Linked DNA regions of Homo sapiens: region 1 is linked to region 2. Evidence: fine-mapped expression QTL. A gene starts in region 2. The other region holds a variant in brackets. All regions are shown on one strand. Distances are between the middles of the regions.

Region 1 (4,411 bases), 110 kb before region 2:
TCCAAGCAGTCATTTATATTTTTTGTTTCATTGAACTTGATCTGTTTACAAAATGCTGTAATCCACATTTTTTTCAAAGTATAACCACTGGGGAAAGGAGTCTTCATTCCAATCTGGCAGTTCTTTTTTATGTTCTCGCTCTCTGGCAATACAAATTTCCAGATTAAGTAATTTTTATTACCACAAATTATTTTGGAAAAATGTTTCTCATTTTTGCCTTCCTTTTCCTCTTTTTCCTCCCCCTTTCTCTTCAGCTCTATTTTGCCTTCCTCTCTTCCACAAATATTTATTTAATAAGATCATGTTAAAAGGGTGAATTAAATAGCTTTTCTTGAATAGTTTTTCTTGGAGTGGGGATCTGTTGACTCTTGTGCATTTGCAATGTGTCCCTGGGCTCCACCTTGTCCCCAGAGCCACGCTGCTGTGGAACAGCCAGCCAGAGTCAGGAGGAAATGTGTGGCCGTGAAATAGCAGGGCACAGTGGCCCTGCCAAATATTACACCAATGACATTGGCCTCGCTGAATTGTAAATCTCATCTTCCTCAAACTACTAATCCAGGAAAAGAAGCTTGAATGTGTTTATGAAATGAGTGTGTCACATTGTTTATTTTGTGTGTCCCAGAATCATCTTCTCTGGCTAATACTTTTTTTAAAATCCTTAAATCTTAATTGTCATGTCTAGAACTGAATGTAATATTCTCAGTGTGATCTGACACAGAAAAAAGTAGGATCATGACCTCCCTGTTCTGAACACTCCTCTATTAAAATAGCCTAAACTGTATTTACTGACTCCTATTGAGTTTTCCCCCAGGTAAGTTTCTGAGGCCACTTCTATATTCACCACTTAAAATGCACATCTTCTTTGTCATCTACCTGCATTGTTGGGATATGGGGTACACATTGAGGAACTTACATTTGTTCGTATTGAATAACATCAGATTTGTAAGTGGCTCCAAAAATTACAGTCTGGTACTATCTTCCAAGAAACTGCCTGACTTTACTAGAAATTACTGTCCAGGCAAGAGGGAAATAAAAGAGGTGTTACAAACATTCAAATTGCCTCAAGAATCTAAGAACTTTCTTCAGTGTAAAAGTTGGGTGTGAATGATAGTTGCCCTAGCAGAGAAGGGATCTGTCTTCTTCATAGATTGTGAACTTTACATCTGGGTTCATGATTTATTTGTGTTTATGTTCTCCACAGGGTTTAGCAAATTTCTTTGTACAGTAGGACCTCAGTAAACACTTGCTAAATGCATGAAAAAGGGGTGATGAGTAATGGTACACCCCGTTGATTGTTATAATGGAAGTCCTTTGCTTTACTTTAATTTTGAAATTCACTTCATTTCCCGTGTAGCAGAATCATCACTTCTATGAGTGAAATGGTTTTGTGTTGACCACTAAAGTTCATATGATTAAACTGAGAAAAAATTCACAGAAATTCTAGTTCATAGAACTTCAAGTAAGATGGCTTGGCTAAATGAGAAATTAGAAACCACCAAAGAAATGTCCTAACTCTGAATCTGTGCAGCTCATCTGAGACATTTTTCACATAGCACCAGCACCTGATCATTGGCTCTGGAGGAATAAATCTAAATTTAAATACAAATAGCCTGTACATTTTGAGGCAGTGCCACTGAAGTTAATGGTTTCCCTAGCCTTTTATATCTGACTTGGGATGAAAATTGGTTTAAATCGATATGAAAATAATTTCCAAGAATAAAATCCCTTCTCTAAAACCCAAGGTGGTTGATGTAATTTGTCCCAGGAAATGAGAGATCAAATCGTTAATGTGGAATAAATATCTCTAAGTAAGCATGTCCTTTCC[G/A]TGGATAAATTGTGATCATGGCAGACAACAACACTCCAGACTTACTGTTGCATGGTATGACCTCAATGGGGGTAAAGTTCTTCATCATTTCAACTCCTATGTTGGACCTGCAAGAAATGGGAAAATAAATTAGCTTAATATCTGCCCAGATAATAAAGTAGGAATCACTGGTTTAGATGGATTAAACCTCTCTTCTCCAAATGCCTTTCCCCCCTTATTTTGATATATTTAAGATATCCTGGGGAAGTTAATGGGTCAGGATTCTGGAAAGCTGTTCCTCTCCTAATGGCAGGGAATCTAGAGATCCAGAGAAAGTCATTCACCCTCCATACGCAATCCATCAAATCTATCTAACATCTATCTATCTATCTGTCTGTCTGTCTATCTATCTATCTATCATCTATCTATCTATCTATCTATCTATCTATCTATCTATCTATCTATGCTTATTTTAATTTTACCTTCTAAATGGCTCTCTACCACAAACTACCCTCTCCACATTTCCACCTGTAGTAATTCAGGCCCTCATCAACCCTTTCCAAGGCTAGTGTTTCTCAAACTTGAGCGTGCATCAGAATTACCTGCAGTACTTTATTACAACTCCAATTGCTGAGCCTCACACCCAGAATTTCTGATTCAACAGTTATGGGGTAAATTCTCAAGAATTTGGATTTCTATAATAACAAGCTCTTGGGCTAACCCAAAGCCAATGGTCTACGGACATTACTTTGAGAACCCTGTCCTAAGTTATTATAATACTATCTTTCTGCCCTTTTGGTTTATCCCACCTAAATACAAACCCTATGCTACCTGTTTTATTCCCCTATGTAAAACTTTCCCATGACTTTCTGTCCTCAACCTACAGAAAAAGCTCCCTAACTGGTATAAAAATCTCCTATGAGTGTCTACATTGCCAGCTTCATCTTCATCTACTCTTCACCTTCTTGAGTTCCCAGGAGTCTATTTTTCATAGTCTGTTATCTCCCTCAGATAGGAATCAAGTCAATATTATTCAGTATAATATTTCGAGTGCCAGCACAGTGAGCTTCGTCTCAAGGTATCAGTCCCAATGACTATGGTGACTATGTCCAGCCAAATTGAATTCACTCTATCGGAATGAAATCCATCTGGGGGAAGGTAGGCCCTTTCAGAGCCAGAGCCACAGAAACCTTCAAAAGGGATAGAGAAAGCCCTTTCTAAGATTGAGAAGAATTGCCTGAATCTCAGGAAATGAGTTTTTGGGTCAAGTGAGGATAATATCCCCTTCATCAAGAAGGCCAGAGGACTGAAGAGAGGTCAGGGTGGCTGGGCGTGATGGCTGCATGGAGTGGTGGAGTCATGGGAGACAGCACTATGGCCCATTGACTTTAGAATAAGATCGACTGGGAATCCCGTTCTGACTCTGCAATTCAACTGGATATGTGACTTTGGCCAACCTATTTAATATGCCTAAATTTTCTCATCTTCAAAATGAGCATAATAATAGTCACTCCAGAGTATTTTACTGAGGATAAATGGTATAATACAAGGGAGGCATCTAACATAAATGTTGGCATATAGTAGGTGCTCAACAAATCATTGCAATTATTATTACTGAGGATCCCATCAGACCTATTTTTGGCACAAGAGTAAGATTTGTCTTTAAGAAATTTAATCTGACCAAACCTCTATTCTCCCATACCTTTCTCAGGTAAGGCTGAGGATAACAAAAGAGATTGAGACCCGGCTACCTTGTAAATTTGGTTACCAAAGAAAAATTTGATGCTACATTAAAATTAGGATTAAAACCATGTATTAATGTTATAAAGGAATTCATTTTAATGTCTCCTGTTTTTGTAATTGTGTATGTGCATTAAATTTTAAAAAGGGGTCTATAATTAATTAGACCATAATAGAAACTAACAGAATAGTGAACAACTGTGTTACCTATGTGATGTCTTCTCCTATGGTAACTCCTCATTTATGTTTTTATCACGATTATCCACAAAACTCTTAAAAAGAAGAAGACTTTTTTAATTTGAAGAAATAAATATCCTAGGAAGTAACATTTCTGATTCTTCAGCCAAGGTTGAGGGAGAGAACCCAGGTGGGAAAATATATTTACAGTCATCCCTCAGTATATGTGGGAGATTGGTTCCAGGACCCCCACCACATCTACAAAAATCAGCATATGCTTAAGTCCTGCATTCAGCCCCACGGAACCCAAGTATGTGAAAAGTCAGCTCTCCATATATTAGGTTTTGCATCCTGTGAATATTATATTTTTGATCCACATTTGATTGAAAATGCTTTGAATATAAGTGGATTTGTGCAGTTCAAATCTGGGTTGTTCAAGGGTTAACGGTACTATGTTACAAATGAAACAGAAACTGGCTTAGTCCCTGTATTCGTGAGAAGGAAAGATGTCAAAGAATTGGGCTTGGGTCTAGGAAGGGACCCTAGAGCTTAGCAATAGAATGGTCCATGAGACTTCTTGGATGTGTAATCAGCTGTTCCTTGCACATGCACTACATCACCTGTAGGGAGACTGAAATCTCTATTTCCATGCAGTAGGAGAAAAAAACTTAATAGCTTGAATAGAGCAGG
Region 2 (4,411 bases):
AATATTTTCTATCTGATTCTTTACAGAAAAAGTTTGTCCACCCCTGGTTAATATCATTCAGATTTCAGATCACTGTTCATATATTTGAATTTAAGAATATATTGACAGTTTGCTATGTTCCACTTCTTTTTTTCCTCCTTTTCCTTCTATTGGGCTAATCAAACATTTTTTATTATTTCATTTAATCTTCATTGTTGATTTATTATGTATACCACTTTTTAAAAGAAATATTTAGTGGTTATACCAGGGTTACAATATTTTTCTTAATTAATCAGAGTCTATCCTTCAAGTAATATTATCCCAATTCACACATGGTATAAAGACTTCAAGATAGTTTTTCCAACTTCCTAGTTTTCATTCTTTGTGCTTATGTTGTTATACATATACACTATAAACACACAGTGTTAGAGATCAAAATGAAAGGAATCTTGGATTCAGCCCTGTTTCAAAGCTCATCAGATGACCTGCACAAATCATTCAAACTTTCTTTTGTACTCTTGGTTCTTTAAGTCAAGCATATCTATTGTGCCTACCTCATAAACAGACTCCAGGTTAACATTAGATTTCAAAATCTATGTGACCAAACCAAATTAAAATCTATAAATCTATATGTCTCAGAGTAGACTGTGAACTTGGGTGGTTGCTGGCATCAGTCCTCTAAGGAACAGCCAAACCAAACCCACTGCAAATACTTTTTTCTTATTATAGGCTCCTCAGTGAAAAATTTAACAATCCTACACCCAGTTTTATAATGTTAAAACAGCTTTTCCAAAGGTCATCAAGTAAAGACATAAAGAAGTATTGTTAAGGTGAATTTGGTAGAACAGGATCAAAGATGTTGGAAGAATTTCAAGATCTGAAACAAGTAGACCAGTTGTGAAACTGGTCTTGATTCCATCTTTTTAAAAACATAAGACTGGAAAGATTGATGGGCATGCTTAAATAAGATGGAAAGATGATGGGCATGCCCTCCTGTGTAGGGCAGCAGTAATCAACCCATGGACGGAGCCACAGGGCCAGCAGCTACTGCTTCCTGTGGGCACTGGTGCAGCTGTCTGGGTGCCTGCTCTTTCCAGCACTGTTTTCATCAGATCAAGAATACAAATCCCAGATGGATTCAAACCCATGACTACAAGCTGTCACTCTGTTAGTCTCAGATGCAATTAATATTATTGTCTTCCCTATGTTATATTTGAAGTTCTTTTAGTTCAATTCAGCAAATTGTATTGAAACCTACTATGTATGAGATAATACGCACTTGAATCCTGCCAACTGGGTCTTGATGATAACGCTAGATGGAAACTAGAAAGTTTGACTTTCTGTTGATGATTACTCTCAATCATTCAAACTTGTGGCTCTTTTTCTCATCAGTTATTTATTGTAACTATAATATTTATCAAATTGTATTAACTAAATACAATTATTTATCAAACACTCTTTTTCTCATCAGTTATTTATTGTAACTAGAATTAGACTTATAAAACTTCAGGAATTTGAAATCATATAACCTACTATGCAGAGCACTTCATTTCTCCTTCCTACCTCTGCTTGAGCTAATAACTACAGTTTGTGATCCAGGCCCCTCCTTAAGGTGGAGCTGACGTGGCTGACACTTCTGTCTTAGCTGAAACAAGCAGAAGGTTGTGAATCCATGCTAAAGGTAAACAAACTGCAACTTATATCTGCAATTTATTTTGGTATAGACAAGAGGTATGCCAGTAGCACACTGGTGGCTTCAGAAGAAATTCTCAACACCTAGCTCGCCAGAGAGTCTATGTATGGGATTGAACAATCTGTAAACTAAAGGTATGAAAAAATTTGTAAAATTGGGAAGGTGAGGGAAAGGTGTGACATTTATTTTTGGGTGCAGAAACATCTAATGCCCATGTATAAACTAGGGATCTGGGGTGAAAGGTGCTTCTAGGGGAGGGTAAATTTTGAGGGATGGAAAGTTTTAGAAAGGCAGCATTCAAGCAATCTGATGTTAAAGTTTAAAGTTCCAAGTTAAAAGAGAACTTGGAATTCCGGTGCAAAGAGAAATGTTAAGATGAATCATGGAAAAATACTGATAAAGCCTGAAATTTTTTTAAGTAAGAAATGTTTTAAAATAATTCTTTTCAAGCTTGAGGGGGTGCTAGAAAGCCTGCTAAAACAGAAAAGGAGGACATATTAATAGATTGGCATTAATGAAACAGAAAAACTAATTTGCATTCAACAGGCACTGTAATGATGTGGTTCTCAGTGTTAATATTTGCTGGAGTATTTTGTGTCTGCCCTTGAGTTTAAGGGAATAGAACAGGGAACCTGATAGGTGACAAATAGTCTGGAGACTTCATCTAGACACGAGCAAGCTTGCATCCTTCAGGCCCTTAAGCTGCTCGATTTCTTAAAGATCACAGTGGGCTCCATGAATTATCTGTTCTGTAGAATGTACAAGCAGATAGCTAAAAGAGAGCACCTGGGAGATACCAAGTACAGCTTGCGGGGGTGAAGGTTTATTTCTGGGAGTTATTTATCTGAGGCTAAAAAGTAATCATGAGCCAAAAAAATTTCAAATGTTTCCCATGTTTGTTTGCTTTTCTGTTTTGTTGTATGTTTTTGTGCTTGTTTTTGTATTGTCTCTTGTAGGATCCTAATCATGAAAATAAGTATGATAAATTATAAGTCACTATTGGCACTGTTGTTTATATTAGCCTCCTGGATCATTTTTACAGTTTTCCAGAACTCCACAAAGGTAGGAAATGCTTTATTTATGTGGTTTACAGAAGCTTATTTTTGCTTATTACCTCATCTGTTCTAGGAAAGGCTAAACTACAAGACTTGTAGATTATAGGAGGGGAGTTTGAATAGCTAGATACCAAACAACATACCTGATAATCATTAAGCAATATGTGAGAGGATAAATACTGTGTGTGTGTTCACACATACACATTCTTTCTTTGTCACAAATAAATGCATTGCACCTATCTTCTTCAATGCTTAGCTCATCTTTTTACTTTCTTTAAGGGAACATCTGAAGAACAGAATATCTATATTTTTGGTTTTCATTTGTTTGTTTTTAATTTTTAATTTTTGTGGGTACAAAGTAGGTGTATGTATTTATGGGGTAGATGAGATATTTTGATACAAGCATATAATACATAGTAATCATATCAGGGTAAATGGGGTATTCATTGCCTCAAGAATTTATCCTTTCTTGTGCTACAAACAAGACAATTATACTCTTTTAGCTATTTTTAAATGTAAAATAAATTATTGGTGATTGTAGTTACCCTGTTATACTATCAAATGCTAGATCTTATTCATTCTGTCTAATCATATTTTTGTACTCATTAACTAACCCCACTTCTCCTCCATGCCCCCACCACCCTTCCCAGCCTCTGGTAGCCATCATTCTACTCTCTAACTCCATGACTTCAATTATTTTAAGTATTAACTTCCACAAATAAAAACGAACATGCAAAGTTTGTCTTCTGTGCCTAGCTTATTTCACTTAACATAATGACCTTCAGTTCCATCCATGTTGTTGCAAATGACAGAATCTTGTTCTTTTTATAACTGAATACTACTCCGTTGTGTATATATACCATATTTTCTTTATGTATTTGTCTGTTGATGGACACTTAGGTTGCTTACAAATCTTGGCTATTGTTATCAGTGCTGCAATAAACATGGGAGTTCAGATAGCTCTTGGATATACTGATTTCCTTTATTTTGGGTATATACCTAGCAGTGGGATTGCTGGATCATATGGTAGCCTATTTTTAGTTTTTTGAGAAACCTCCAAACTGTTCTCTATAGTGGTTGTACTAATTACATTCCCACCAACAGTGTACAAGTGTTCCCTTTTCTCCACATCCTCACTAGCATATGTTACTATCTGTCTTTTGGATAAAAGCCATTTTAACAGGAGTGAGATTATATTACACTGTAGTTTTGATTTGTGTTTCTCTGATGATCAATGATGTTGAGCACCTTTTCATATACTTGTTTGCCATTTGCATATCTTCTAGTAAGTGTCTATTCAGATCTTTTGCCCAATTTTTAATTGGATTGTTAAATATTTTTGCTATAGAGTTGGTTGAGTTCCTTGAATACTCTGGATAGTAATCCCCTGTCAGATGGATAGTTTGCAAACATTTTCTCCCATTCTGTAGGTTAACTCTTCACTCACTTGATTGCTTCCTTTGCTGTGAAGAAGTTTTTAGTTTTATATAATCCCATTTGTCTATCTTTGCTTTTCTTCTCTGTGCATTTGAGGTCTTATCCAAAAATCCTCTGGCTACATCAGTGTCCTGAACAGTATTCCCTAGGTTTTCTTCTAGTATTTTCATACTTTGGGTCATGCATATCAGTCTTTAATTCATTTTGTAACTGAGTTTTGTATATGGTGAGAGAAAATGGTCTAATT

Evidence for each region. PIP is the estimated chance that this variant, and not a neighbour inherited with it, causes the effect.
Region 1: its variant is the best candidate, but not a certain one, in a credible set for the expression of NXPE4 in lung (TOPMed, PIP 0.83).

The regions. Positions count from the first base shown.
Region 1 is chr11:114,701,512-114,705,922 of GRCh38, reverse strand. NXPE2 (neurexophilin and PC-esterase domain family member 2) reads right to left here. Exons shown (of 6, transcript NM_182495.6): 4 at 1,871-1,932; 5 at 1-142. Among named protein-coding and RNA genes, the nearest start is that of NXPE2, 25 kb to the right of the region's middle. The variant G/A (reference allele first, on the strand shown) is at 1,826.
Region 2 is chr11:114,592,987-114,597,397 of GRCh38, reverse strand. It overlaps NXPE4 (neurexophilin and PC-esterase domain family member 4), which reads left to right and starts at 1,612. Exons shown (of 6, transcript NM_001077639.2): 1 at 1,612-1,806; 2 at 2,629-2,734. The coding sequence starts at 2,639. It also overlaps a transcript of NXPE2 not described here.